Regions from separate parts of the Homo sapiens genome. Here all the other regions are linked to region 1. Evidence: fine-mapped QTL for protein levels in blood plasma. A gene starts in region 1. Each other region holds a variant in brackets. All regions are shown on one strand. Distances are between the middles of the regions. Region 1 holds the start of RABEPK (Rab9 effector protein with kelch motifs). Region 2 overlaps RABEPK (Rab9 effector protein with kelch motifs). Region 3 overlaps GOLGA1 (golgin A1). Region 4 overlaps RABEPK (Rab9 effector protein with kelch motifs).

Evidence for each region. PIP is the chance, under the fine-mapping model, that this variant and not a neighbour inherited with it causes the effect. The UK Biobank Pharma Proteomics Project read protein levels with antibody pairs (Olink). The fine-mapping took linkage between variants from a reference panel, not from the people measured, so its PIPs are less certain.
Region 2: its variant is fine-mapped to the plasma level of the RABEPK protein (UK Biobank, PIP above 0.99). The variant lies in the coding sequence of RABEPK. If it changes the protein, the assay may bind it differently, which can mimic a change of level.
Region 3: its variant is fine-mapped to the plasma level of the RABEPK protein (UK Biobank, PIP above 0.99).
Region 4: its variant is fine-mapped to the plasma level of the RABEPK protein (UK Biobank, PIP 0.90). The variant lies in the coding sequence of RABEPK. If it changes the protein, the assay may bind it differently, which can mimic a change of level.

What each region holds. Positions count from the first base shown.
Region 1 is chr9:125,196,117-125,203,553 of GRCh38, forward strand. It overlaps RABEPK (Rab9 effector protein with kelch motifs), which reads left to right and starts at 4,426. Exons shown (of 8, transcript NM_005833.4): 1 at 4,426-4,790; 2 at 6,892-6,950. The coding sequence starts at 6,898. It overlaps LOC105376271 (a long non-coding RNA gene), which reads right to left and starts at 4,280. Exons shown (of 2, transcript NR_135145.1): 1 at 4,110-4,280; 2 at 3,417-3,539. RefSeq lists a silencer at 4,304-4,353.
Region 2 is chr9:125,216,638-125,224,074 of GRCh38, forward strand. It overlaps RABEPK (Rab9 effector protein with kelch motifs), which reads left to right. Exons shown (of 8, transcript NM_005833.4): 5 at 3,902-4,063. Among named protein-coding and RNA genes, the nearest start is that of RABEPK, 20 kb to the left of the region's middle. The variant GC/G (reference allele first, on the strand shown) is at 3,935.
Region 3 is chr9:124,883,768-124,891,204 of GRCh38, forward strand. It overlaps GOLGA1 (golgin A1), which reads right to left. Exons shown (of 23, transcript NM_002077.4): 16 at 6,622-6,711; 17 at 5,667-5,769; 18 at 5,376-5,536; 19 at 4,486-4,629. It also overlaps the pseudogene RNU4-82P. Among named protein-coding and RNA genes, the nearest start is that of ARPC5L, 25 kb to the left of the region's middle. RefSeq lists a silencer at 356-497. The variant G/A (reference allele first, on the strand shown) is at 2,830.
Region 4 is chr9:125,228,990-125,236,426 of GRCh38, forward strand. RABEPK (Rab9 effector protein with kelch motifs) reads left to right here. Exons shown (of 8, transcript NM_005833.4): 7 at 3,607-3,756; 8 at 4,699-5,172. The coding sequence ends at 4,991. It overlaps HSPA5 (heat shock protein family A (Hsp70) member 5), which reads right to left. Exons shown (of 8, transcript NM_005347.5): 8 at 5,864-7,437. Among named protein-coding and RNA genes, the nearest start is that of HSPA5, 8.6 kb to the right of the region's middle. The variant T/G (reference allele first, on the strand shown) is at 4,727.

The DNA of each region.
Region 1 (7,437 bases):
ATTTTTAGTAGAGACGGGGTTTCACCATGTTGGTCAGTCTGGTCTCAAACTCCTGACCTCAGTTGATTGGCCCACCTCGGCCTCCCAAAGTGTTGGGATTACAGGCATGAGCCACTGCGCCCAGCCACAATTCACTCTTAATCTCTGAACCTCAGTAATTGGGAATAAATCCTATTCAAGATACCTTCTCAGAAGTGGGAAGGAAGACAAATAGGGAGATGGATGTGAATGTTCTTCATAAACTGTAAAGTGCTTAAAAGGAAGGTCTCACCGGCATTCATTACTTCCCTTGCTGATGCATCAGTAAAGAGGTCAGTGGTGTGCTGTTCCAGTGAAAATAGGTGGCAGTCCTCACATGACCACACTATCTGACAGGAGGAAGCTCCCTCCTGCAGACCCACCTCATTGAGTGAACATCATTCTTCACATCCACAGCAGAGAGAAAAGAAGAAAGCGTGCGTCAGAGTGTTGGGCAAGCTTTTAGGAGAGGTGTTAGACACTTCCAGTGGTTTGGTATGGAGATGGGGTAACAGAGCTTGATGACTGGAATGCATTCTTAGTCTTCCTTGCAAGAAATAAGAGATCTGGGTTCCTGGGTTCCTGGTTCTGCCATTTTATGTGGGGTAGTTATTTTAACTTCTCTGGGCCTTGATTTCCATTTTTAAAAATACATCTCTTGCCAGGCACAGTGGCTCACACCTGTAATCCCAGCACTTTTGGAGGCAGAGGTGGGTGAATCATTTGAGGTCAGGAATTCAAGACCAACCTGGCCAACATGGTGAAACCCTGTCTCTACGAAAAATACAAAAATTAGCCAGGCATGGTGGTGCGCACCTGTAGTCCCAGGTACTCAGGAGGCTGAGGCAAGAGAATTGCTTGAACCTGGGAGGCGGAGGTTGCAGTAACCTGAGATCATGACACTGCACTCCAGGCTGGGCGACAGAACAAGATTCCATCTCAAAATAAGTAAATAAATAAAAATAGAAATAGAAAATACATCTCAGGCAGCCTGGCGCAGTGGCTCACGCCTGTAATCCCAGAACTTTGGGAGACCGAGGTGGGTGGATCACGAGGTCAGGAGTTCAAGACCAGCCTGGCCAAGATGGTGAAACCCCGTCTCTACTAAAAATGCAAAAAAAAAATTAGCTGGGTGTGGTGGCGGGTACCTGTAATCCCAGCTACTTGGGAGGATGATGCAGAGAATTGCTTGAACCCGGGAGGCGGATGTTGCAGTGAGCCGAGATCATGCCACTGCACTCCCCCAGCTTGGGCGACAGAGCAAGACTGTCTCAAAAAAAAAAAAAGAAAATAGATCTCAGGCATTCCACATTCTCAAATGTGATTTCTAGTCTAAAAGCATAGGTTCAGCAGGCACGGTGGCTCATGCCTGTAATGCCAGCACTTTGGGTGGCCAAGGCAGGTGGATCATCTGAGGCTAGGAGTTCAAGACCAGCCTGGCCAACATGGTGAAATGCCGTCTCTACTAAAAGTACAAAAATTAACCATACGTGGTGGCCACGCCTATAATCCCAGCTACTTGGGAGGCTGAGGCAGGACAATTGCTTGAACCCAGGAGGCGGAGGTTGCAGTGAACTGAGGGCGCCACTGCATTCCATCCTGGGCGACAAATCGAGACTCCGTCTGTAAATAAATAAATAAATAGGTCCCGCAGTGAAAACTGGCTGCTATTTTGCCCACAAACCTCTTCCAATTTTTCTTGTTGATGTGCCACTCCAGCATGGCACCTTGAAACAGAGCTAGCCAGAAAACACCGGGGACATCAGAGCATTCTGCAGCTGTGAGCAGAAATGTACGTGGAGATGCACATGGACATATGGCAGAGCTAACCTGGACTTGGTTTTCTTTCCTGAAGGAGAGCAGAATGACTGAATATCCCTAAACTTCTCTTTGGCAGACAGTCAATGGGGATTTTTCCACTAAAGTGGGAACTCACAAAGACTCCATATGTTTGAAAGAGCCGCAGACCTTGAATTCCATTTTGTCAATAAATTTTGGTTATGGTTTCAAGTAGCTAAAATATTCCTTTCACCAACCTGGCCTTTCACCTGTATTAGCACATCCTCTGAACAGTTCTGTCTGCACAGCAGGTAATACTATCATCATTCTATAGATGAGGAACTAGGGTTCAGAGTGGGTAACTTGCCAAATGTCAGAGTTAGATGGTTAGTGCTGGACCCTGGATTTTTTTTTTTTGACAGAGTCTTGCTCTGTTGCCCCGGCTGGAGTGCAGTGGCACGATCTCGGCTCACTGCAACCTCCACCTCCTGGGTTCAAGTGATTCTTCTGCCTCAGCCTCCTGAGTAGCTGGGATTACAGGCAAACGCCTGGCTGATTTTTTTTTAGACAGAGTCTTGCTCTGTTGCCCAAGCTGGAGTGCAGTGGCATGATCTTGGCTCACCACAACCTCTGCCTCCCGATTCAAGCAATTCTCCTGCCTCAGCCTCCCGAGTAGCTGGGACTATAGGTGCGCATCACCGTGCCTGGCTAATTTTTGTATTTTTAGTAGAGATGGGGTTTCACTATGTTGGCCAGGCTGGTCTTGAACTCCTGACCTCGTGATCTGCCCTCCTTGGCCTCCCATAGTGCTGGGATTACAGGCATGAGCCACCACACCCAGCCTGGAGCTTGGATTTTAACCCAAGTATGTTTGATCTCTTCCCACTAAGCTACCATAGCTCTATACTCCAGGAGCTCCTGTTTCTAACCTGAGCTGTTTTCTCTATTTTCTAGGACACAGCGACAGTTTCAGAGACTGGAGTTCTTTGAAACAGACATAAGAGAGCAAGCCACCTCTCTATTTTCAGGAAAGACACAGAGAACCTATGGTTATGAACTAAAACAAAGATAATGTAGATTCTGAATATGTCTAGAGACATTGTTCATTTATAGTCAGGAATAGCTTTACCCTTGACAGAGAACTCTGTGCCAGCTGCTGGGTGCTGAGCACTTTTATTTACATTATGTCATGTATTCCCCACCACAACTACTACATACATCTCTCTTTTTTTTTTTTTTTTCTTGAGACGGAGTCTGGCTCTGTCACCCAGGCTGGAGTGCAGTGGCACTATCTCGGCTCACTGCAACCTCCGCCTCCCAGATTCAAGCAATTTTCCTGCCTCAGCCTCCTGAGTAGCAGGGATTACAGGCGCCCACCACCACGCCTAGCTAATTTTTGTGTTTTTAGTTGGGGGGGGGGGCGGGGGCGTTCACCATGTAGGCCAGGCTGGTCTCGAACTCCTGACCTCGTGATCCGCCCGCCTCGGCCTCCCAAAGTGCTGGACTTATAGGCGTGAGCCACCGCGCCCAGCCTATGATAGAAATCTTATTAGCTCCATGGTTACAAACAGACAACCCTGAGGCCTGGAGGAAAGTAACTTCAGAACAGATACTCTCCTGGCTGAACTTTATATTTATTGCACTCTTGGCAGTCGTCCCTAGTTGTCTTTTTCTTTGATCTCTCTCTAGTTAAGACTTGCTCCTGGAGGCAAAGCGTGGTGGTGTCTGGCTCAGCATAGCACCTGCCATAATTACAAATGGCAATTATGGAATGAATCAGCTGTTTAAAGCACCAAATCTTGAGCTGGCCCGAAGACTGCGCAGGAGGATTGCATGCTCAACTCTCCCCTTTAGAAACTGTTAACAATCGTTGTGGCCGGGCGCGGTGGCTCACGCCTGTAATCCCAGCACTTTGGGAGGCCGAGGCGGGTGGATCATGAGGTCAGGAGATCGAGACCATCCTGGCTAACAAGGTGAAACCCCGTCTCTACTAAAAATACAAAAAAAATTAGCCGGGCGCGGTGGCGGGCGCCTGTAGTCCCAGCTACTCGGGAGGCTGAGGCAGGAGAATGGCGTGAACCCGGGAAGCGGAGCTTGCAGTGAGCCGAGATTGCGCCACTGCAGTCCGCAGTCCCGCCTGGGCGACAGAGCGAGACTCCGTCTCAAAAAAAAAAAAAAAAAACAATCGTTGTAACTGGAAATGTAACTGTTATACCCTCCCCCCCTTTTATTTATTTATTTTTTTGAGAGGGAGTTTTTGCGCTGTTGCCCAAGCTGGAGTGTGGTGGCGCCCAGCCCTGTTAGCCCCTTACAGAGTAGATCAGCTGCCGCAGGCATCTGAGTTCCCCAAACGGACGCCCGAACCCGGCATTGCGCAAATCGTTTCCAAGTAGCCCCGGCTTATTTATCCCGTCCGGGAGGGAGGGACCCAGGGAAGGCCCACCCCACTTGGTTCCCGAGAAATGCAGAGCCTGGCGTCCACTCCCGGTCTGGGGGACCCCTCCACCGCCAGCCCAGGAAGTCAGCGCCGGGCCCTCGGGGCGGAGCAGGGAAGAGGGAGCGGTTGGCCCGGACGCTCTTCCGGGTCCTGGGAGGAGGGCCCGGACCTAAGCCCCGCCCCTCCGGGGTGGAGTCACGGCTCGCGACTGGCCTAAGTCGCCGCAGGTATTGCAGTCCGGGGCTGGAGGGTAGGGGCGAGGGTCCCCGGATACCGGGTCTATCACGGTCTCGGGCAGGGAGTCTGAATCTTTTAGGGGAGTGGGCCCAAGCCGGGTGCAAAGAACGGGGAAGGGCCTTCCCTGGCTCCGTCCCGGCCACTTTGACCGAATCAGCCTGTTCTTTCCCGACCCCGTCTCCTATCCCCTAGAACTGCCACGTGGGGATGAGATTTGCTGGGCTGGTAGCGGCGGCTGCTGCGGGAGGTCCCGCCCACGTGAAGCCAGCCTAACTGAGCTCTGGACTTTGGGGACAGCTGTCAGTGGCCTAGGCCGCAGGTGAGATTTATCCATTCATCTCTCAATCTATTTTCTTTCTTCATTCACTAGCCACTCCCCCACTTCTACTCCATGCCAGGTCCATTGGTAGGTTCTCGGAATGGATCTGACAGGCCCAGCCCTCTAGGAACTTAGTCTAGTGGAATTTAATCTAGAATCTAGTCTAGAAGCCTTAAATAGATAAACATTCCAAATGATTCCTGCAATGGTGATGGCTAATACCTTCAGAGCCCAGTGGGTGGAAGAAGGAAGTAACTTGGATGTGGGTGGAAGAGAAAAGGGCAAATCAGGGAAGGTTTCACCAGGGAAGGGACTTTTGAACTGGGCTTTGAAGGTTAACTAGGAGTTTGCAAATTTCCCAGAAGGGAAGCGACATTCCAAATAGGGGAAGCAGAACAGGCTGCAAAATTATGAAAAGGCCTGCCATATTACAAGAACAGCAAAAAAACCAATAATGCAAGAGATTGTGGAGGTGAGTTCACGGGAAAAAAGCTCAACAGCAGAAGGCCTTACTTTCTATGCTATGTTGAGGCCAAGATTTATCCCAGAGCTCAGTATTTCTCAGCTTCTTTAAATATTTTGTCCTTTGAGCGGAGAGCAGTGGCTCACACCTGTAATCCCAGCTTTTTAGGAGGCTGAGGTGGAAGAATTGCCTGAGGCTAGGAGTTCGAGACCAGCCTGGACAACAAAGCGAAACCTCCATTTCTATTTTTTTTTCTTTTTTTGAGGAGGAGTCTTGCTCTGTCGCCAGGCTGGAGTGCAAGTGGCGCAATTTCGGCTCACTGCAACCTCCGCCTCTTGGGTTCAAGCAATTCTCACGCCTCAGCCTCCTGAGTAGCTGGGACTACAGGCGTGGGCCACAACGCCCAGCTAATTTTTTTTGTATTTTTAGTAAAGACAGGGTTTCACCATGTTGGCCAGGATGGTATCGATCTGACCTCATGATCCGCCTGCCTCGGCCTCCCAAAGTGCTGGGATTACAGGCGTGAGCCACTGCTCCCAGCCCCGTTTCTATTTTTAATTAAAAAATAAATAAATGGCCGGGCTCAGTGGCTCACGCCTGTAATCCCAGCACTTTGGGAGGCCGAGGCGAGCCAAGTTCAAGACCAGCCTGGCGAACATAGTGAAACCCCATCCCTACGAAAAATACAAAAAAAATTAGCCAGGTGTGGTGGCACTTGCCTGTAGTCCCAGCTTACTCTGGAGGCTGAGGCAGGAGAATAGCTTGAACCCGGGAGGCAGAGGTTGCAGTGAGCTGAGATCCTGCCACTGCACTCCAGCCTGGGTGACAGAGTGAGACTCCATCTCAGAAAAAATAAAAATAAAAAATAAAGCCAGGCACGGTGGCTCATGCCTGTAATCCCAGCACTTTGGGAGGCTGAGGCGGGCAAATCACCTGAGGTCAGGAGTTAGTGACCAGCCTGGCCAGTGTGGTAAAACCCCGTCTCTACTAGAAAAGCTAGAAAAATGAGCTGGGCGTGGGTGGGCACCTGTAATCTCAGCTACTCAGGAGGCTGAGAAAGGAGAATCATTTAAACCTGGGAGGGGAAGGTTGCAGTGAGTGGAGATTGCACCACTGCACTCCAACCTGTGCAACAGAGTGAGACTCTATCTAAAAATAATAATAAAGATAAATACATAGGCCAGGCACGGTGGCTCACACCTGTAATCCCAGCACTTTGGGAGGCTGAGGCGGGTGGATCAGCTGAGGTCAGGAGTTCGAGACCAGCCTGACCAACATGGTGAAACTCCATCTCTACTAAAAATAGAAAAATTAGCTGGGCGTAGTGGCACATGCCTGTAATCCAAGCTACTCGGGAGGCTGAGGGAGGAGAATCGTTTGAACCTGGGAGGCAGAGGTTGCCATGAGCTGAGATCTTGCCATTGCACTCCAGCCTGGGCAACGAGAGCTAAACTCCATCTCAAATAAATAAATAAATAAATAAATAATAAAAATAAAGATGAAAAGTTGGTGATTCTTATTCAAATCAATCAGGCCTAGAAATTAGTACATTCAACAGGAAAGGTTTAAAAAGGAGGTTGAATTGATTAAGATGATAATCATAAGTGTCTAAAAAGTGCCTTTCTTTCTTATGCATAGGACACCATGAAGCAACTGCCAGTCTTGGAACCTGGAGACAAGCCCAGGAAAGCAACATGGTCTGTAAGGAAGGATCCAGACACAGAAAAGCATGAGTTTTTGTTTCATTTATAAGTAGTTTATTTACATATTTGATCATCAACAAAAAGGGGTAGAGATGAAACTGTCTGCAGTTTCTGGTAATTAGACTCAAACTGTCTGAGAAAGTCTTCAGAGGAAAGATAGGGGGGCAGTAATTATCACAGAGCAGATGTTAATTTTATTAAAATCCATTTACCAGAAAGAGTAAGGCACTGACCATCTGGCATCCTCAGCTCCAATGCTGTGTCTTCCCCCGAGCTCTGACTCATTTTTAAGATTTTTAGGAAATTAGATTTGGATTAAACTGGCTTCACTGTTTCTTGGCTGTTTGTTCAAACAACCCTTTATTCAACAACTAACATTGGCCTGATGGGGGCAGCTGCTCTGTGGGTGCTGGAGGTAGAATTGTAAATAGTCTCTGTGTACTGGGGACTACAGACTAAGCAGGTGATGGTGATAAAATGT
Region 2 (7,437 bases), 21 kb after region 1:
GAATACTCAGGGTACAGAACACTGTCCGAAATAAAGTAGACACGGCCGGGCATGGTGGCTCATGCCTATAATCCCAACACTTTGGGAGGACGAGGAGGGCGGATCAAAAGGTCAGGAGTTCCAGACCAGCCTGGCCAACATACTGAAAGCCCGTCTCTACTAAAAATACAAAAGAAAAAATTAGCTGGGCTTGGTGGCAGGTGCCTGTGGTCCCAGCTACTTGGGAGGCTGAGGCAGGAGAATCGCTTGAACCTGGGAGGTGGAGGTTGCAGTGAGCCGAGATCGCGCCACTGCACTCCAGCCTGGGTGACAGAGTGAGACACCGTCTCAAAAAAAAAAAAAAAAGAAGAAAGTGATAGAGTAGACACTTGGCAGACCATTTGGCTAATTGTGAAGCCAATTTGCTTGGAGGACTAGCAGTATAATATGGTGCTTAAGGGCACAGATGAGGGTCTCTGTTTTGCTATGCACTAACTATGACCTTGGACTAGTGATTTAACCTCTCTCTGCCTCTGTTTTCTGTCACATTGGATAGTAATAGTTTCTACCTTGTTAATTTGTCAAGGATTTAAATAAACTCAGTATCTGGCACATAATTAATGCTCAGTAATTGTTGTGGTAGTTGATGTAGTTAAGGTTTGGCAAAGGGAAATCAGTTCTGGAACCCTGGCCTTTTGATTTTCAACAATGGTATCCATTGAAATAAAATAAAGTGAGAATTTGGAAAGCTGTCAAAGAGGGTGATTTTATTTTATTTATTTATTTATTTATTTTTATTTTTGAGACAGTGTCTCACTGTGTTGCCAAGGCTGGAGTGCAGTGGCGCAATCTCAGCTCACTGCATCCTCCACCTCTTGGGTTCAAATGATTCTCCAGCCTCAGCCTCTCGAGTAGCTGGGATTACAGGCACATGCCACCATGCCCAGCTAATTTTTATATTAAAGAGGGTGATTTTCTATCATATCCCTTTTCTCTCCTAGAAAATATAATTTGACATCATGCCCAAGAAATATGAAATATGTACTTAGTTGCATTTGTTACCAAGGCAAGTCCCTCAAATGCTCAGGACTCCTTTGTGATTCTTTGTGCTGGTGTTTGAGTTGGCAGGAATACAGCCCTAGGGTCTTCTGGGCCTGGAGGTGACATGTATACCTTTCTAGCTCCCTCTAAGATCCAAAAGCTCTCCAACATCTGTAACTATAGAGACAGCTACATTTTGCTTTGGATATAGGCTGAGACTTTTTCAGTCTCCAGGTCCCCATTTGAGTCCCACACATATTACAGATGTTTCCTGTAGCATTTTATATATTGGATGTAGACCTTTTACAAAAGACAGAATTTCTTGGTGTGTTATGGTAGAGCAAGTGTGGGACTCTGATAGAACTGAGTTCAGGCCCGGCGCGGTAGCTCACGCCTGTAATCTCAGCACTTTGGGAGGCCGAGGCGGGCAGATCAGGAGGTCAGGAGCTCGAGACCATCCTGGCTAACACGGTGAAACTCCGTCTCTACTAAAAAAAAAAAAAATACAAAAAATTAGCCGGGCATGGTGGCGGATGCCTGTAGTCCCAGCTGCTCGGGAGGCTGAAGCAGGAGAATGGCGTGAACCCGGGAGGCGGAGCTTGCAAAGTGAGCCGAGATCGCGCCACTGCACTCTGGGCTGGGAGCCACAGCGAGACTCCGTCTCAAAAAAAAAAAAAAAAAAAAAAAAAAAGAACTGAGTTCAAACTCCTGCTCTGCTACGCACATATGCTATAACCTGCAGGAAAGGATTTAAATGTGCAGAGCTTCAGTTTCCTCATCTAAAAGTAGAGATACTTCCGCTCACTTCCCAAGCTTGAGTGAAGACACCAGGGATGGCAGTGCCCAGGGCAATGATGCTGCCCATTGAGGGTGCTCAATTAATGCATCTGCTTCTATAAAACCCAGGTTCATCCTTAAAAGAAATAAGCTTCTATACATCTATCTAGGTGGTGAAATTTTATTCTCCAGTCAGAGGAGTGGGAATTAGAAAGATCTTGGTGTTACTGAAAGAGTTTAAATTCCAACTCAGCCATTTCTTAGGCATGTCACTTTATCTGTCTCTCTCTCTCTCTCTTTCTCTCTCTCTTTCTTTGCCTTATTCTGTAACCCAGGCTGGAGTTGCAGTGGTGTGATCTTGACTCACTGCAACCTCAACCGCTGCAGGCTCAGTATATCCTCCCACCTAAGCTTCTCAGGTAGCTGGGACTATAGGCATACGCCACCACACCCGACTAATTTTTTTTTGTATTTTTTTGTAGAGACAGGGTTTTGCCATGTTGCCCAGGCTGGTCTCAAACTCCTGGGCTCAAGCAATCCACCTGCCCCAGCCTGCTAAAGTGTTGGGATTACAGGCATGAGCCACCGAGCCTGGCTAGCCATGTCTCTTTTAAAAAGTTACTTAATCCATCCCTACTTCAATTCTCTTACCTGTAAAATGCGGAAATTAATATTTGTTTAGCATTTACTGTTTAGTAGGGACTGTTATTACTGCTACTGAAATGTAATAGTATTGTCTTTTTTTTTTTTTCATTTCTTTCTTTCTTTTTTTTTTTTTTCAAGATATGGTCTTACTCTTTTACCCAGGCTAGAGTGCAATGGCACGATCATAGTTCATTGCAGCCTCAAACTCCTGGGCTCAAGCAATCCTCCTGCCTTGGCTTCCCAAAGTGCTAGGGTTACAGGCCTTACAGCCACTGTGCTCAGCCTAATTTTTTTTAATTTTTAATTTATTTTATTTTATTATTATTATTTTTTAAGATGAAGTCTCGCTTTGTCAACCAGGCTGGAGTGCAGTGGCATGATCTCAGCTCACTGCATCCTCCGCCTCCTGGTTCAAGTGATTCTCCTGTCTCAGCCTCCTGAGTAGCTGGGATTATAGGTCCCCACCACGACACCTGGCTTTATTTATTTATTTATTTATTTTTAGTAGAGATGGGATTTCACCATGTTGGCCAGGCTGGTCTAGAACTCCTACCCTCAAGTGATCCACCCACCTTGGTCTCCCAAAGTGCTGGGATTACAAGCGTGAGCCACTGCACCCCTGGCTGATTTTTTGTAGAGACAGGATATTGCTTTGTTTCCCAGTCTGGTCACAAACTCCTGGGCTCAAGCAATCCTCCTACCTCGATTTCCCAAACTGCTGAGGTTACAGGTGTTAGCTGCTGCACATGGCCTGCCTACTTTCTTTTATTGGCCACATTTTCTGGGAAATCTGGCACACCTGGACTCTGGCATCTAGTGGGAATGAATGTTAGCAGATGTTAGGGGGAGCGATAGTGAGCAAAGTAGAAGAGGGTTCAGAGAGGATATTTGAAGGCCTCCAAAACAAATTGACCTCTTTTTTTTCTTCTTTTTTTTTAATATGGAGCCTTGCTCTGTCACCCAGGCTGGAGTGCAGTGGTGCAATCTCAGCTCACTGCAACCTTCACCTCCTGGGTTCAAGCGATTCTCCTGCCTCAACCTCCTGAGGAGCTGGGATTACAGGTCCCCACCACCATACCCGGCTAATTTTTCAGATTTTTAGTAGAGATGGGGTTTTACCCCATGTTGGCCAGGCTGGTTTCGAACTCCTGACCTCAAGTGATCCGCCCGCCTTGGCCTCCCAAAGTGCTGGGATTACAGGCATGAGCCACACTGCACCCAGCCTGACTCCATTCTTGTGCTTACAGCTTTTAAATCTTGGGGATTTTGGACTGTCTTGGCAAATCCTAAGTATCATCTTCATTCTTCCTTGATGTTTGTGAGTATGAGATCCCTGCCCAAAACTATGCTGGCCCCCCTGGGGATTGGAGTTTGGAAACTGACTTCACTCAGCCCCAGAGTCAAGGTCAGAAGCCCCTCTACCTGGATATTTTAAGTGCCTGCATTCTCTCTGGCCCAGAAACCAGGACGTGGACCACGCCAGAAGTGACCA[GC/G]CCCCCACCATCCCCAAGAACATTCCACACATCATCGGCAGCCATTGGAAACCAGCTATATGTCTTTGGGGGCGGAGAGAGAGGTGCCCAGCCCGTGCAGGACACGAAGCTGCATGTGTTTGACGCAAGTATGGACTGGTGGGCACCTTGGGGCTGGTCAGGGCCATCCCAGTTTACACATTACCTAATATAGGAAGCAGAAGTTAGAAAAGGAAAGCCTGACTAAGTGTCTCACTTCTAGACTTCTTTGTTATATCTCTTAGCTGATATCTTTTTCCCACAGCAAAATTGGCATTTAAAAAGGGATAGTGAGGCCTGGCATGGTGGCTCACACCTGTAATCCCAGAGCTTTGGAAGGCTGAGGCAGGTGGACCGCTTAAGGTCAGGAGTTCGAGAACAGCCTGGCCAACATACCTTTTCTCTACTAAAAACACAAAAATTATCCGGGCATGATGGTATGCACCTGTAATCCCAGTTACTCAGGAGGCTGAGGCAGGAGAATCGCTTAAACCCAGGAGGAGGAAGTTTCAGTGAGCCAAGATTGGGCCACTGCACTCAGCCTGGGCAACAGAGCAATACTCCATCTCAAATAAATAAATAAATAAATAAATAAATAAATAAATAAATAAAACTAAAAAGGTAGGCCGGGAACGGTGGCTCACGTCTGTGATCCCAGCACTTTGTGACGCCCAGGTGGGAGGATCACCTGAGGTCAGGAGTTTGAAACCAGCCTGGCCATCATGGCAAAACCCCATCTCTACTAAAAATACAAAAATTGGCCGGGTGCAGCGGTGGGTGCCTGTAATCCCAGCTACTCGGGAGGCTGAGGCAGGAGAATCACTTGAACCCGGGAGGCGGAGGTGGCAATGAACCAAGATCGTGCCATTGCACTCCAGCCTTGGCAACAGAGCGAGACTCTCTCAAAAACTAAATAAAAAAATAAAAAGGTATAATGATCAAGTTAAAAAGTTTAAACCATACAATTTATAAAGTAAAAAAGTAAAAGAAAGAATAAGAAAGACAAAAAACAAACAGAAGTAAAAGATTCCCCTTCAGCCTTTCCTTTCCCCGCCTCAGGTACATGCCTGGGTGATTTTTTTTCTTTTTCTTTTTTTTTTTTTGAGATGGAGTCTCGCTCTGTTGCCCAGGCTGGAGTGCAGTTGCCCGATCTCGGCTCACTGCAACCTCCGCCTCCCGGGTTCAAGCGATTCTCCTGCCTCGGCCTCCCAACTAGCTGGGATTACCAGCATGCACCAACATGTCCATCTAATTTTTTGCGTTTTTAGTAGAGACAGGGTTTCACCATGTTGGCCAGGCTGGTCTTGAAGCCTGACCTCAGGTAATCTGCCCACTTCAGCCTCCCAAAGTGCTGGGATTACAGGCTTGAGCCACTGCACCCGGCCAGATTTTTGTATTTTTATTGTAGAGATGCAGTTTTGCCATGTTGCCCAGGCTGGTCTCAAACTCATGAGCTCAAGCAATCTGCCTGCCTCTGCCTGCCCACCTCTGCCACCACACTCAGCCAAAATTTTTACCTTGCAAAGTAAAATTGGGAAAATTAAGAGATAGCACATTCCCAAGCCAGAGTATTTGGGAAAAAAAAAAAAAAAGACACATCACAGTGTGACTTTTCTCTTTCCAGAAAGAATGGGCTTTGTGATTCTTTTAAAGCAGTTTTAAAAGTTTAAATAATATTGGTTTTGAATATATAAAACTATAAGGAACAAGAAAAAAAACATATGTATGTGTATATGTGTGTGTGTGTGTACATGTGTATGTACTATCACCCCAAAATTAAATTACTGTTAACATCTCAGTGTATTATCAATCTTTTTTTTTTAAGAACAGAGATAATTCAAACCAGATGTGGTGGCTCACGCCTGTAATGCCAGGACTTTGGGAGGCTGAGGAGGGCAGATTACTTGAGGTCAGGAGTTCAAGAGCAGCCTGACCAACATAGTGAAACCTCGTTGCTACTAAAAATACAAAAAATTAACTGGGCGTGGTGACGCACACCTGTAATCCCAGCTACTTGGGAGGCTGAGGCATGAGAATCACTTGAACCCCGGAGGCGGAGGTTGCAATGAGCCGAGATCTTGCCACTGCACTCCAGCCTGGGTGAGGGAGCAAGACTCTGTATCAAAAAAAAAAAAAAAAAAAAAAAAGGACAGAGATAATTCTATATGTTACATTTGCATCCTATATTTTTCACTTAAGCATTGTTCCATGCAATCAGAAAGTCTTCACCAGCATTTTGAAATGATGATTATTATATAAATATTAGAGTCAGGGTCTCACTGCATTGCCAAGGCTGGTCTCAAACTCCTAGCCTCAAGTGATCCTTCAGCTTTGGTCCCTCAAAGTGCTGGGATTACAGGCATTGAGCCACACCACCCGGCCTTCACCATCATTTTTAATAAGTGCTTAGGCCAGGCGCGGTGGCTCACGCCTGTAATCCCAGCACTTTGGGAGGCAGAGGCGGGTGGATCATGAGGTCAGGAGTTCGAGACCAGCCTGGCCAAGATGGTGAAACCCTGTCTCTACTAAAAATACAAAAATCAGCCAGGAATGGTGGCGGGCGCCTATAATCCCAGCTACTCAGGAGGCTGAGGCAGCAGAATTGCTTGAACCCAGGAGGCAGAGGTGGGTGGATTACCTGAGGTCAGGTAATCCTGGGCAACATGGTGAAACCCTGTCTCTACTAAAAATACAAAAAATTAGCTGGACGTGGTGGCAGGTGCCTGCCTGCCACCCTCTGCTGCAATCCCAGCTACTAGGGAGGCTGAGGCAGGAGAATCCCTTGAACCTGGGAGGTGGAGGTAGCAGTGAGCTAAGATCACGCCACTGCACTCTAGCCTGGGTGACAGAGCAAGGCTCTGTCTCAAAAAAATAAATAAATTTTTTAAAAAGTGTGTAATATTTCCTCATGGCTATACTAATAATTAAACCTGCTCATGGACACTTAGGCTATTTCCAATTTTTGTCTATTATAAACAATACTGTAATGAACAAGCCAGGTATGCTGACTCATGCCTATAATCCCATCGGCTCAGGAGGCTGGAGGACCGCTTGGGCCCAGGAGTTTGAGGATGTAGTGAGCCATAATTGCACCACTGCACTCCAGCCTTTGCAGTAGAGCGAGACCCTGACTCTAAAAAAAAAAAAAAAAAAAAAATGCTATAAGGAACATATTTATGCAGAAACCATTTCAGGTAATTTTAAATTAAATTCCTTGGGACACTGGGGACTCCTTGAACAACCAGCAGGCATACCATAAACAGTAATTCAAAGACAAATTGTTTGGCAGACCTTTGTTTCAAAGAGTTTTTGCAGGCTGGGCGCAGTGGCTCATGCCCGTAATCCTTTGGGAGGCCACTTTGGGACACCAAAGCAGGTGGATCCCTTGAGGTCAGGAGTTCAAAACTAGCCTTGACAACATGATGAAACCCTGTTTCAACTGAAAATACAAAAAATTATCCAGGCATGGCGGCAGGTGCCTATA
Region 3 (7,437 bases), 310 kb before region 1:
ACAGCATCTCACTATGTTGCCCAGGCTGGATTCAGTCTTTGAACTCCTGGGCTCAAGCAATTCTCCCACTTCAACCTCCCGAGTAGCTGGGACTACAGCTGTGCGCCACCACGCCTGGCTAATTTTCTTTGATGTTTAAATAGTATTATGAGCCTTACATTTATTACACATTCCATACACATTCCATTATTCACTAGACAGGCTGAGACATTTTCTCAACTAAAAACTTCATAATATAGGGAAAAAAAATTTTTTTTTTTTTGAGACGGAGTCTTACCCTGTCCCTGAGGCTGGAGTGCAGTGGCACGATCTCGGCTCTCTGCAACCTCTGCCTCCTGGGTTCAAGCAATTCTCCCACCTCAGTCTCCTGAGTAGCTGGGATTACAGGTGTGTGCCACCACGCCCAGCTAATTTTTGTCATTTTAGTAGAGACAGGATTTCACCATGTTGGCCAGGCTGGTCTCGAACTCCTGGCCTCAGGTGATCTGCCCGCCTTGGCCTCCCAAAGTGATGAAATTACAGGCATGAGCCACCACGCCCGGTTTTAAATAAAAATTTATTCAAAGTCTCTGAATGGTAATATATCAAAATGCATTCTTCCATGTACCCCCAGTCCACATCCCCATTCTTGCACAGCGTGGCTGGAATTGTAAATACATTTTTCATGTATCAGAGTCATCACTGCCTCCTCCAGCTTTCCTAATTGTAATGTCTAATGTGACAGGAACTCCCGGGGATGCCCTTGTCTTACTGCGTGGCTGGGCTTCCACTTTAAACAAAGCTGGGATAAGCTTTGTTTCCCCAAGCGAGGAATCCCCATTGTTTCTCTTGGGGATAGAATGACTGAGTCAGAAGACCACAGTTTCTAACTTCTCCACTGTGAGGCATCTTAAGTGACCTCCAACACACCCAATTTTGTAAAATGGCACCTTGTGGCTTTGATTTCTATTCTCTTGGCTGACCATGAGGCTGGACACTGCCCCAAAAGTACATTGGCTACTTTATCTTACGTTATTTTGGTTTCCTGGATTTTCCTCACTCAGTAATTCATCTAATAGTTACTGAGTCCCTGCACTGTTCTAGGGGCTGGAGAAACGGCAACAAAAAAGTCAAAAGTTCACCCTCGAGGGGAAAAGAATCAATAAACAGGCCAGGTGTGGTGGCTCACACCTGTAATCCCAGCACTTTGGGAGCCAAGGCAGGCGGATCACAAGGTCAGGTGTTCCAGACCAGCCTGGCCAACATGGCAAAACCCCGTCTCTACTAAAAATACAAAAAAAGCCAGGCACAGTGGCTCACGCCTGTAATCCCAGCACTTTGGGAGGCCGAGGCGGGCAGATCACGAGGTCAAGAGATCGAGACCATCCTGGCCAACATGGTGAAACCCCATCTCTACTAAAAATACAAAAATTAGCTGGGCGTGGTAGCGCGCCTGTAGTCCCAGCTACTTGGGAGGCTGAGGCAGGAGGAGAATTGTTTGAACCCGGGAGGCGGAGGTTGCAGTGAGCTGAGATCGCGCCACTGCACTCCAGCCTGGCGACAGAGACTCCATCTCAAAAAAAAAAAAATTAGCCAGGCGTGATCGTGGGCACCTGTAATCACAGCTACTCGGGAGGTTGAGGCAACAGAATCGCTTGCACCGAGGAGGCAGAGGTCGCAGTGAGCCAAGATCACGCCATTGCACTCCAGTCTGGGTGACAGGGGGAGACTCTGTCTCAAAAAAAAAAAAAAAAAGAAATCAATAATCAAATCCGCAGTGTATCAGAGGGTATGAAGAGGCATGGAGAAGAGGCAGCATGGTGAGGGAGGGTGGGGTTCTGGTGGTGAGGCTGGTCAGGGTGGCATAAAGAAAGTGAGGATGACCAGGGAAAGGCACTTCCAAACGGAAGGCTCAGCAAGTGCCAAGGCCCTGAGGTTGGAGGGTACTTGATGGGAGTGAGGCCCCTGTGGCTGAGAGGGAGTGACGAGGACAGGAGGGGCTCAGCTGGCAGGGGTAATGAGGGGCCACACCACACAGGGCTTTGCGGGCCTCTGCAAGGACTCAGGCTTTCATAAGAGATCAACAGAGACAGGCTTTCATCAGAGGGCTAAGACAAGAGTGCCAGGGAAACCAGTTAGAAGTCTGATACCATCTTCCAGAGAAGAGACAATGGTAACCTGAAGCAGGTGGCAGCGATGTGAAGTGGTGGATTCTGGGAAATGTGTGAAGGGGGTGCTGAAGGAATCTGCTAACAGCCTGGATGCTGGTAGAGAAAGAACCAAGGCAGATAGGACAACTCCAAGGCTTTTGCCGTCTACTGAGATGGGAAAGGTGGCATGGCAGCCAGGGAACACAGTGAAGCCGAAGTGTGTTTTCCGATGTTTTGAGTTTCAGACACCTTAGAGCTCATGTGGAGACAGGTTTGTGAGGCTAGTGTCCGTGGAGCTGTCTGGGCGGGAGGTAGGGAGGGGAGTCAGCTGCGCAGGGCATGGCTGAGATCGCAGAGGAGGGCGCACAGTGCAGAGAAGAGCTGTGAGGGCTGCCCTTGTGCACGGCGGGTGGCAGTGGGAAGGAGACTGGCCTGTCAGAGGAGACGGAGAAGGAGCAGGCCATGGATGGGAGCTTCAGGAGGAGGAAGAGACGCCTGTCCAAGGCTGCCAACAGGCCAATCAGAGGGAAAATTAGGAACTGCCTTCTGGATTTAGCAGTGCAGATGTTACTGATGAGCTTGACAAGAGTGTTTTTCTGTGGAGTGGTGGAGGAAAGGTTGAGAGAGAAGAGGAGTGGGAATGGAGATGGCAGATATAGGAAGTTTTAACATGTCAGCACGGCAGGTGAGCAGAGACGCA[G/A]CAGCAGGGCAAAGGGGTGCAAGCCGAGGGCTTTCATAAGGTGCCTGCACAACGGCGCACCTCTCAGTAGATGGGACGATTCCAAGAAAAAACGACCTAGGCAAGAAGGGGGAGGCGGCTGGCGTAGTGCTTGGGGAGGTGGGGGAACAGGATATGAGGAGAGGCTGTGGCACGTCCCTTCTCAGAGAAGCAGGAGGTGGGAGCACCAGGGTGGGTGAGGCAGGGTTGAGGTGAAGAGAGGAGAGAAGGTAGACATGAAGTTGGGGTTAGGGGCAGAGGGGCGTGAAGGCCCACGGATGAGGTGGGGTTGCGGGGAACACTGGGCTGCCCGCAGGACCATGGTCCTGAGCTTCGAGGGGACCTGAATGCCCAGGTGATGGCACTCTCCAGCCAGGTCTGCCTCCATGGCTGCAGGCAGGGAGCAGGGAAGAGTTGGGTTTAGCCCAAGTTTAACCAGAGCTTGGCTAGGACAGTCTGAGGAAAGGGAGAGAGGCCAGAGGACCGCAGGTGTCGGGAAGGCAGTGATCCCGTGACAGACACAGACCCGACGCTGAACAAGGAGGCAGGAAGGCAGCACAGCTGGTAAGGCCAGAGGCTCAAGGGACGGAGGTCCTAGGGGACAAACGGGAAATTTGCAAACAGGCAAAACGAAACTGTGGGGTTGAGCAATGCGAGCTGAGGTGACACTAGGGAAAAAAGCAAGGCAGTCATTGCCAGAAGGGCTGGGATCGGAGTGACTGACAGGGCTGGGAGGGGCTCAGGGGGCTGGGCTTCTGGGATGCTGGCAATATCCTGATTCGCATCGGGGTGGTTACATGGGTCTGCTTTCTGTTAATTCACTGAGACACACATTTGTTTTGTACACTTTCCTGTGTGTATTTTTTTTTTCAATTAGCAATAATCGCGCCTCGGATAGACCTCATTGGCTACGATACTGCCACTGCTGCAAAGCTTCTGTATTTTATATTAGACATAATGAACACTTTCCCCCTTGTAAAAGATCTAAACACACACACACACGTGCACTCACACACACAAACACACACACAATTTGGGGGCAGAATGTCAGGCCAGAGCAATAGCCGGCTGGCACACTAAGCTTCACAGGACACTTTAAGAACCAGGATTAAATGAGATCCTGCATTTATATAGGTGGAAAGGCTGGAGGGTGAAGGGTGGGGACCATGACATTTATTGAGCCTCTACCAAATACCAGAGAGTTTATAAAGTTTATAGGACGGTTCACAAATACCTTCATTTCATAACCCCCTCCTCCCACCCAAACAAACCCTTAAAGGCAGCTATCAGTGCTTTACTTCCACAGCTGTAGAAAGGAAGTATAGACGAAAGAGGACTGTCGCTATGGCCTGGCTGGGGACAGCAGAGCTGGCAGGGAACATGCAGGCTTGCAGCTGCCCAAGCCTGACACTTGTCCAGTTCTCCAGGGGGTGGGGAGAAGAGGGCTGGGGAGGGTGTGGAGGAGGACAGTGCAGGAGGAACGGAAGATCAGGAGGAAGGCCTTTGGGTGAGAGGGGTCATGGTTGCCAGGAGGTGCGGGGGAAACCACAAAAACCTCCAAGGATGGACTGGGTCATTTTAGGCCTGAGGGTGAGGACCTGGTGGAGACAGAAACAGCCATGCAAAAGGCATCCTCACCTTATTTTTCTCCAGAAGTTGCTGCTCCAAGTCCTGTTTCTCCTTCTGTAGCTGTGTGAGATCCATGGCCCCAACCTCACCATTTGGTGTTCTTCCTGCAGTTGGAAGCTGGAACACAGGGTCCTGCATGGCCCTCGAGGTCACCTACAAGGTGGCAGCAGCAAATTGAGAGCCAGGACAGGTCAGGTGAAGCTGAGCCACAGGTACACAGGGAAGGGGAGCTAGACTCGTCCCTTAGGTATGGGCGTTGTGCTCCAACAGGCAACTGGCCAGGAAGCAATTCCTGGAGAAGATCCAATGCCCAATGCCCACAACTAATCACACGACTAGTCTTTGCTGGGATGAAGGGGCTTGCTCTCCCCTGCCTACCGACAGGGGTGCCATCTGTGATGGGCTCTTCAGGACTCATGGCCTCCTAGCCATATGAGTGCCCTACTTTATTTATTTATCTATTTATTTATTTATTGAGACGGAGTCTTGCTCTGTCACCCAGGCTGGAGTGCAGTGGCGCAATCTCGGCTCCACCAAGCTCCGCCTCCCGGGTTCACATCATTCTCCTGCCTCAGCCTCCCGAGTAGCTGGGACTACAGGCACTCGCCACCACGCCTAGCTAATTTTTTGTATTTTTAGTAGAGACTGGGTTTCACCGTGTTAGCCAGGATGGTCTCGATCTCCTGAACTCGTGATCCACCCGCCTCGGCCTCCCAAAGTGCTGGGATTACAGGCGTGAGCCACTGCGCCTGGCCAAGTGCCCTACTTCAAAGAAAGGACCCTACATGCAGGGGAGCGTCGTGTCCACCATGTGTCCCCACTGCTGCCTCCTTAGGGGCACTCTCGGCACCTGCCCTGCATCTTGCTGTAGCACCCATGCAGGTGCAGCTGGGACTTACGTGCGACTCATTGACTGAGAGTGCTTCGGCCTGCAATGGGCCCCGCAGCCTCAGCAGGTCCTCCTGCTCCGCGACCACTGCAGCCTCCTCCGCCTTGAGGGTCCTCAGGGCCTCCAGCTCGGCCTGCAGCTGGTGTATCTGCAGCAGGGCAGAGTTGTGACCTAGGTCGGGGAGGAGGGGAGGGGGCACTGTGAGCCCAGTGACTCCATGCTGCTTGGTGGCAAGGCCGTCACAAGGCAGGATGCTGGGCCTGAAAAGGAGAGAAGGCTCAGCCAGGGACCGACTCCTCACCTCGCTCCAGCTGGAGAATCTCCTGCTCTTTCTGGAGAAGCACTTCGGTTTTTTCCCGCAGATTCTGTTCCTTCTCGTCTATTATGGCTGTCAGGTTAGCTGCCTTGGAGAGAAAAATCAACAAGAGGGAAGGTTGTGAGCAGTGACTCCATCTTCCCACAGAAATCTCCACTTCCCCGCTCTCCAGGGTACACCACGAATCCCTCCCTGAAGTCCACGACCCAGAGCAAACCCCCAGCTAAGCTCTGCTCCTATGAACATGCACAAATCTATTCTCCTTGGTAGGGGCCCTGCACAGGGGCAGTCGCCTCCCACTGCCCCCTGGCCAACAGTGGGTCAACCAGAGACGTGGCCATTCTGCCCAGCCCAACAAGCTGTCATAACTTCCATTTCCTGAGTGCCTGCAACATCCCCAGCACTAGACACGCATTTGATATATGTTGCCTCATTACAGAATAGTTTCCCAGAGGTGTAAGTAGAAGGCTAGAGTCCTCATCAGAGGAGACTCAGATTTGTTAAGGACTTACCAAAGGCCTAAAGCCACTTAACTAGAAGCTCTGGGGTCAGATGCAAAGTCTACCTTCAAGGGAGGCTTTCCCATACTTCCTGCAAAAACTCAACCCAACCTTACGTGGCCTCTGGGGCAGGTGGGCAATGATAGGTCACCTCACAGAATTAGAGCCCACTAGGCCCGTGGACATGGACCACTTTCCAGGTAATTATAGTTGAAAAATCAGAAAAGGGCATCCTATGGGGTAAGAGTTTCTTTATAACATTTGTCTCCCAGCTTCCTAGAGAGCACAGGGGCCCACGCAGCTGACTGCATTCCCTGAGTCCTGAGTCTACTACCCTACCCTGGAGAGACAGGCCCTCTCCAACAGTCTCACGGCAGGATGGGCCTGCTGCCTGTGGGACTGCAGGGGGACATCGCCCCTCAGCGTGAAACAGGGCCCACCTGTTGCTGGAACTCTTCCCTTTGCTTCCGCACCTCCTCCAGGGCTTGAGCCATGGCCACGCTCACAATTTCTCTTTGGCTCCATTCTTCCTACAATGCAGAAAACCACTGAGCCCCAAAACTTAGTTCACAGTTTTTTAGCTGTATGCCACGCAAGAAGCCCAGCAGACAGGGCATGGCTTTGCAGAGCCAGACCAACATGCTCCCCACTTCCCAGGCTCCCAGCCTGGCCCCTCCCTGCCATGCCCTCAGTATCCCTCTCAGAGCTATCCTGGCAGGCAACCCACCGACTTCTCTGGAAATGGCACACCACTGAGGATCGATTGCCCCACGAGCACCCCCGCCAGGACCCACACCAAGGCTAGGGGCCTATCCTGAAGAGCTGGTCTAAGGACAGTAGCCAAGAACAAGAAGTCAGACTCGCAGGCCACGTGAATGGAGTGGGGGACTGGAACAATTGGTTATGGAAAGAAGAAGAAGTAATGACCAGGGACGGTGGCTCACACCAATAATCCCAGCACTTCAGGAGGCTGAGGTGGGAGGATCGCTTGAACCCAGGAGTTCAAGGCCATCCTGGGTAACACAGTGAGGATCTGTCTCTATAAACAATAAGAAAAATTAGCCGAGCATGGTGTCACATGCCTGTAGTGCCAGCTACTCAGGAGGCCGAGGCGAGAGGATTGCTTGTGTCCGGGAGGTCAAGGCTGCAGGAAAATGGATTCCTTCAAGCATCAGCTAGTGAGGGGCTAGGCTGACAAGACAGAACTGAGTCTCTGTGGCTCCAAAGTCTGCCCTAGCGCCTCAGAGCCACCTAAG
Region 4 (7,437 bases), 33 kb after region 1:
ATGCCTGTAATCCCAGCACTTTGGGAGGCCAAGGCAGGTGGATCATCTGAGGTCAGGAGTTCGAGACCAGCCTGGCCAACATGGTGAAACCCCATCTCTACTAAAAATATAAAAATTAGCCAGGCGTGGTGGTGCATGCCTGTAATCCCAGCTACTCGGGAGGCTGAGGCAGGAGAATTGCTTGAGCCCAGGAGGCAGAGGTTGCAGTGATCCAAGATCATGCCACTGCACTTCATCCTGGGCGACACAGCAAGACTCCGTCTCCAAAAAAAAAAGAAAAAAAGAAAAAAAAAATCAGCCAGGCTTGGTGACAGGCACCTGTAGTCCTGGCTACGTGGGAGGCTGAGGCAGGAGAATCGCTGGAACCTGGGAGGTGGAGGTTGCCGTGAGCTGATTGCACCCCTGCACTCCAGCCTAGACGACAGAGTGAGACTCCGTCTCAAAGAAAAGAAAAAAGAAAAAGAAAATATAGCCTTGCTCTTATGTGTAGGTAACTTGACCAGCTGGCAGAATCTTCATCAGATTCTGTTACCTCTGGACAGAATACTAATAATAAAAAATCATAGCACTAAATAATCTCCTGAGTGCTTACTATGGACCCAGCCATTTATTGTCTCTTAACCTTCCAACAGTGCTCTCCTTTCATTACAACCCATTATGCTTTGTGTTGGCCTACTGGATTTCTTTCTGGTGTTAGCCATTAACCCATGAAGGATCTGGATAATGTGGATGTAGATGACTAGAGTTTCATGCTTTTCATGTTAAATGGTTGAAAACAGTGGGAAGAGGAAGGTTAGAGAGAACATGAGAAATATCCTTTAAGTATCTGAAGGGCTGATATGCTGTGGAGAGACCCTGGACTCATTCTGGGCAATTCCTTCAAGCTGTGAGGTCCATTATGGTAGGGAACTTGTCTATTTTGTTCTCCAGTACATTTCTAGCACTTAGCACAGTGTCTGGCAGATAGTGGGTGACAGGTACTTTCTTTTTTTTGAGATAGTGTCTCACTTGGTTGCCCAGGCTGGAATGCACTGATGCGATCTTAGCTCATGGCAGCCTCTGCCTCTCAGGTCAAGTGATTCTCCTGCCTCAGCCTCCCGGGTAGCTGGGACAACAGGCACGTGCTACAACACCCAGATAATTTTTTTATTTTCTGTAGAGATGAGGTTTCACCATGTTGCCCAGGCTGGTCTCCAACTCCAGGACTCAAGGGATCCACCCGCCTTGGCCTCTCAAAGTGCTGGGATTATAGGCGTGAACCACTGCTCCCGGCTCATACCTGTTATTGAGTGGAGGGATGAAGAAATGAACATGTTCTGCATTGCTCCAGACTACAAGAACTGGAACAATGGGCAGAAGGCATGGGAAGTCCTGTGTAGTGTATCGGGCTGACTTCCCAAGCCCTGAATTATCTGGCTCCATGACAGCTGAGGCCAGGGGACACTGGCTTTGTATTCTTGCATTGGCTAGAATTTTGGCCACACCGGGTGATTCTCCCTTCTTACTCTGAGATGCTGGGCCCCTGCCTTGCATTGACAGATGGAAACTATTTTTTTTTTTTTTTGAGATGGAGTCTCGCTCTGTTGCCCAGGCTGGAGTGCAGTGGTGCAATCTTGGCTCACTGCAAGCTCTGCCTCCCGGGTTCATGCCATTCTCCTGCCTCAGCCTCCTGAGTAGTTGGGACTACAGGTGTCCACCACCACGCCCGGCTAATTTTTTGTATTTTTAGTAGAGACAGGGTTTCACCGTGTTAGCCAGGATGGTCTCAATCTCCTGACCTTGTGATCCGCCCACCTCGGCCTCCCAAAGTGCTGGGATTACAGGTGTGAGCCACTGCGCCCGGCCGACAGATGGAAACTATTTACACAAAACCATTCCTTGCGGGCAGTCAGATGGGGTCTTAATGCTTATTTTTAAAAAGAGCCTTTTTCTGGTGTTAGGAACTACTTGTTGACTATTTTTCCTGCCTACCCAAGTAGTTCTCTAAATCTAAAATCCAGTGATAGCTTGCCTTATTTAAATGCTTGTTTTGGCTGGGAGCAGTGGCTCACCCCTGTAATCCCAGCACTTTGGGAGGCCGAGGTGGACGGATCACCTGAGGTCAGGAGTTTGAGACTAGCCTGGCCAACATGGTGAAACCCTGTCTCTACTAAAAATGCAAAAATTAGCCGGGTGTGGCGGCACGTGCCAGCTACTCTGGAGGCTGAGGCAGGAGCATCGCTTGAATCCGGGAGGTGGAGGTTGCAGTGAGCTGAGATCGCGCCACTGCACTCCAGCCTGGGTAACAGAGTGAGACTCTGTCTCAAAAGAAAAAAAAATGCTTGTTTGAAAAGATGCAAGTTTCCCTGCAAAAATAGGTGGGAAGTAGGCGCTAAGGCAGCACATTATCGTGTAGAGATTTTGGAGACACAGGCTTTGGAGCCACACCTAAGTGCAGTCTTGCTGTGCCACTTACAAGCTATAGGGTCTCGGACAAGTCTCTTTCCTTCTCTATTCTTGTTTGCTCATTTGTAAGAAGAAAGGGGAGGCCAGGCACCAGGCCATGGCTCCCGCCTGTAATCCCAGCACTCTGGGAGGCCGAGGTGGGTGGATCACGAGGTCAGGAGTTCAAGACCAGCCTGGCCAAGATGGTGAAACACCGTCTCTACTAAAAATACAAAAAATTAGCCAGACCCGGTGGCAGGTGCCTGTAATCCCAGCTACTCGGGAGGCTGAGGCAGAGAATTGCTTGAACCTGGGAGTCAAGATCAAGCCACTGCACTCCAGGCTGGGCAACAGAGCGGAAAAAAAAAGAATAAGAAAGGGGATAGGCAGAAGTAATAGAAATTTCATAGGGCTGTTATGAAAATTAAGTGAGCAAAATTTGTTGTTTAGCCAGCACTTACAAAATCGCTAAGGAACTGTATTTTTTTTTTTTTTTTTTTTTTGAGACGGAGCTTCGCTCTTGTTGCCCAGGCTGGAGTGCAATGGTGTGATCTCAGCTCAGCGCAACCTCCGCCTCCCAGGTTCAAGCGATTCTCATGCCTCAGCCTCCTGAGTAGCTGGGATTACAGGCATGCACCACCATGCCTGGCTAATTTTGTATTTTTAGTAGAGACGGGGTTTCTCCATGTTGGTCAGGCTGGTCTCGAACTCCCGACCTCAGGTGATCCGCCCGCCTCGGCCTCCCAAAGTGCTGGGATTACAGGCGTGAGCCACCGTGCCCGGCCCAGGAACTGTATTTAAAGTACACACACACACACACACACACACACACAGAGACAGAGAGAGAGAGAGAGAGAAACTGAGCTAATTCGAGGCAGTTAATAGTGAATGGTTGAAGGTGACTGTTATTATAAAGGTTGTATCACATTTCTGTGTGATCCAAAGACTGCCTACATCAGAATCGCCTGAGATTCTGGGAATCACTGAGCCCCTCCCTGCCTTCCTCCCTGGACTACCCAATCATAATGTCAGAGTTCCCCAAATAATTCTTATGTGCACTAAACCTCTCAGAGCTCTTGGTGAATGACTTTCAGTGATTGGTGTGCAAACTACAGTAGATAGATAAGTTTGAAAGCACATCTTAGCCCATGCTGCGCCAAAGCTCTTTCTTTCTCTTGGCAGGTGACATGAAATGGCAGAAGCTAAATCCCACTGGGGCTGCTCCAGCAGGCTGTGCTGCCCACTCAGCTGTGGCCATGGGAAAACATGTGTACATCTTTGGTGGAATGACTCCTGCAGGAGCACTGGACACAATGTACCAGTATCACACAGGTGAGCAGGTGTCCATGGGGGATCTTTAAACAAATCTAAACATTCTTTGAAACGTGATGCGGTGGCTCACGCCTGTAATCCCAGCACTTTGGGAGGCCGAGGCAGGCAGATCACGAGGTCAGGAGATCGAGACCATCCTGACCAACATGGTGAAACCCCATCTCTACTAAAATACAAAAAATTAGCCAGGCGTGGTGGCGGGCGCCTGTAGTCCCAGCTACTCGGGAGGCTGAGGCAGGGGAATTGCTTGAACCCAGGAGGCAGAGAGGTTGCAGTGAGCTGAGATCACACCACTGCACTCCAGCCTGGTGACAGAGCGAGACTCTGTCTCAAAAAAAAAAAAAAAAGAAAGAAAGAAAAAAGTGATGCAGTGCTTCCAATTTGGTTCCTCTATATCTAAATCCAAAAGAATGAAAACTCTGTAGGGGATGACATCAGGAAAGCAGCAATGCTGCCATAAGGTTTTTTTCCTTTTACTCCTGTTTGTTAGGACTCGGCTGCTACAGTAAATCACTGAGCATTTCTAGAAATTTCATTACTTTTTAAATTTTATTCAGATTTTGGCTTTCACTATCTGGAAATTGTTTTTTTTTTTTTTTTTTTTTTTGTCTGAGATGGAGTCTCACTCTGTCGCCCAGGCTGTAGTGCGGTGACGTGATCTTGGCTCACTGCAAGTTCCACCTCCTGGGTTCACGCCATTCTCCTGCCTCAGCCTCCCGAGTAGCTGGGACTACAGGTGCCCGCCACCATGCCCAGCTAATTTTTTTTTTGTATTTTTGGTAGAGACGGGGTTTCACCGTGTTAGCCAGGATGGTCTCCATCTCCTGACCTCGTGATCCACCCGCTTCGGCCTCCCAAAGTGCTGGGATTACAGGCGTGAGCCACCGTGCCCGGCCTATCTGGAAATTTCTTAACATGAAGCCTTTTCCCTCCCCAACATAGAAGAGCAGCATTGGACCTTGCTTAAATT[T/G]GATACTCTTCTACCCCCTGGACGATTGGACCATTCCATGTGTATCATTCCATGGCCAGTGACGTGTGCTTCTGAGAAAGAAGATTCCAACTCTCTCACTCTGAACCATGAAGCTGAGAAAGAGGATTCAGCTGACAAAGTAATGAGCCACAGTGGTGACTCACATGAGGAAAGCCAGACTGCTACACTGCTCTGTTTGGTGTTTGGTGGGATGAATACAGAAGGGGAAATCTATGACGATTGTATTGTGACTGTAGTGGACTAATAAAACCCACATTTTTATTACCTGTCAGTTACTTTCAGAATAGTTAAGTAAAACATTAGCTGTTTTATACCTCCAAAATATCTTCTGCATTATATATCTGTTTTTCTCCTACTTTGGTAGGTGAAGAAACTAATGCAAATAATTCTTATGTGCACTAAACCTTGCTATATTGCCTCTCAGAGCTCTTGGGAATGACTTTCAGTGACTGGTTTGCAAACTGTGGTAGATAGATAAGTTTTGCCCAATGCAAAAACCTCCACTGCATTAACATAAAAGGCTTTGGGCCAGGCTTGGTGGCTCACGCCTGTAATCCCAACACTTTGGGAGGCTGAGGAGGTGGATCACCTGAGGTCGGGAGTTCAAAACCAGCCTTACTACCATGAAGAAACTCCGTCTCTACTAAAAACACAAAATTAGCCGGGTGTGCTGGCCCATGCCTGTAATCCCAGATACTCAGGAGGCTGAGACAGGAGAATCGCTTGAACCCGGGAGGCGGAGGTTGCGGTGAGCTGAGATCACACCATTGCACTCCAGCCTGGGTGACAAGAACGAAACTCTGTCTCAAAAAAAAAAAAAATATATATATATATACATATATACACACATATATATGTATACATATATAGTATATTTATATGTATACATATATATGTATACATATTTATATATACATGTATTTATATATGTATACATAAACACATATATATGTATACATATATATATATATAAAAGGTTTTGCCAACAATACAAACCTAGGTAGGTGTGATTTGTGTATTAAATGCTAATCACAAAGTTGCAATATGGTTAGGGTTAAAAAAGAAGTTGCAGAATTATAATTGGTAAACAACAAACTATAGACATCAGACACATAGTTGAAGTCTATCTTTTTAATATTCAGTAACAGCTCCTCAGAAAGAGTTACAGACTAGGTGGTCCACGGTAGTGAGAGCCTTTGAGGTAAGGGAAGACTAGCCCTAGTTGCTAACTACCATTTAACCCTATTGCCCCAGGGTACACAGCACTGTAGGTCATCTTTAATGGCTGTATTGGGCTTGGCCTGAGACCAGTATTCTGCTCAGGGTCTGCCCAAATGCTTTTCGGGCAGTGCAGCTGAGGCCTAGGTCTAATTAAGAGTTTGGTGTTGGGATCCAGTTCTACTAGCCCTAGAGAATTAACCTTTCAGCCAGTTGCCCATCTATAAAATACCTATCCTTGGGCAGTATTGGATTCTTTTTTTTTTTTTTGAGGTGGAGTCTCACTCTTGTCGCCAGGCTGGAGTGCCGGGCTGGAGTACAGTGGTGTGATCTCGGCTCACTGCAACCTCTGCCTCCCGGGTTCGAGTGATTCTCCTGCCTCAGCCTTCAGCTTGCACTACCACGCCCAGCTAATTTTTGTATTTTCAGTAGAGATGGAGTTTCACCATGTTGGCAAAGATGGTCTCTATCTCTTGACCTTGTGATCCACCCGCCTTGGCCTCCCAAAGTGCTAGGATTACAATATTGGATTTTATGTTAGCACCAGCCTGTCCTTTATTGATCATACCATTTACCTGGACTCTTTTCTTCAGGAACACAATCTAAGTAATCCTAAACCAGTTTTGACACAAACCATTGCCTTTAACAACCCATTCATAGTGAGGGGATTTAGTGTAGTTTCAATGTCACCATCCAAGATCCCACCCCAGTACCACTAATGAGAAATTTCAGGGATGGAGATTCTGACACAGCTAGGGTTCACAATATACCTTTACATCCTAAAGTTACAAATGAAATCCAAGTGTATAAAGTTAATACCAGTGATCACTCACTCCCCATCATTTCTCAGAGAATCCAAGCAGCTATAAAAGCATCATTAGTAATAATTTTAAAAAAAGCCACCAGAAAGGCAGTTTTAGAAAGATAAGGGGAAATAGGAAACCAAGTATGTTCAAGAAAACCCCACTCTTGGGCACTGTGAAATGCCCCTTGCCTGAGTAAAGATGTGGATTAACTTCTCTCCCCTTTTCTTAGATTAATGCAAAAGCCGAGCATGGTGGTAACAAGCCTGTGGTCTCAATTAGCTGGGAGACTGAGGTGGAAGGATCACTTGGGCCCAGGAGGGTTAAAAAAAAAAAAAAAAATCCCTGGAAGCATTAAATAGAAGTGTTTCCTTATCCCAACATACCAAATACTCCCTCCCCTCACCCCACACACGAGTATCTAGTCTTAAATTTCCTAAAATAAGTAATTGATCTAATTAGAAGCTTCTCACAAACATTAGACCAGTGTAAATAACAAACATTTATTGGTGTCACTTATGGTAGAAAAAACTTCCTACACCAGATGCACATGACCCAGTTGTTAAATAGAACATTTTGAAGGTGAACACACACCCTAACCCAGGTTTTTTACCCGCTTTTTAAGATGGCCAATTCTTCTTCTCCCCCCCACCCAAAGACATGTGAGCA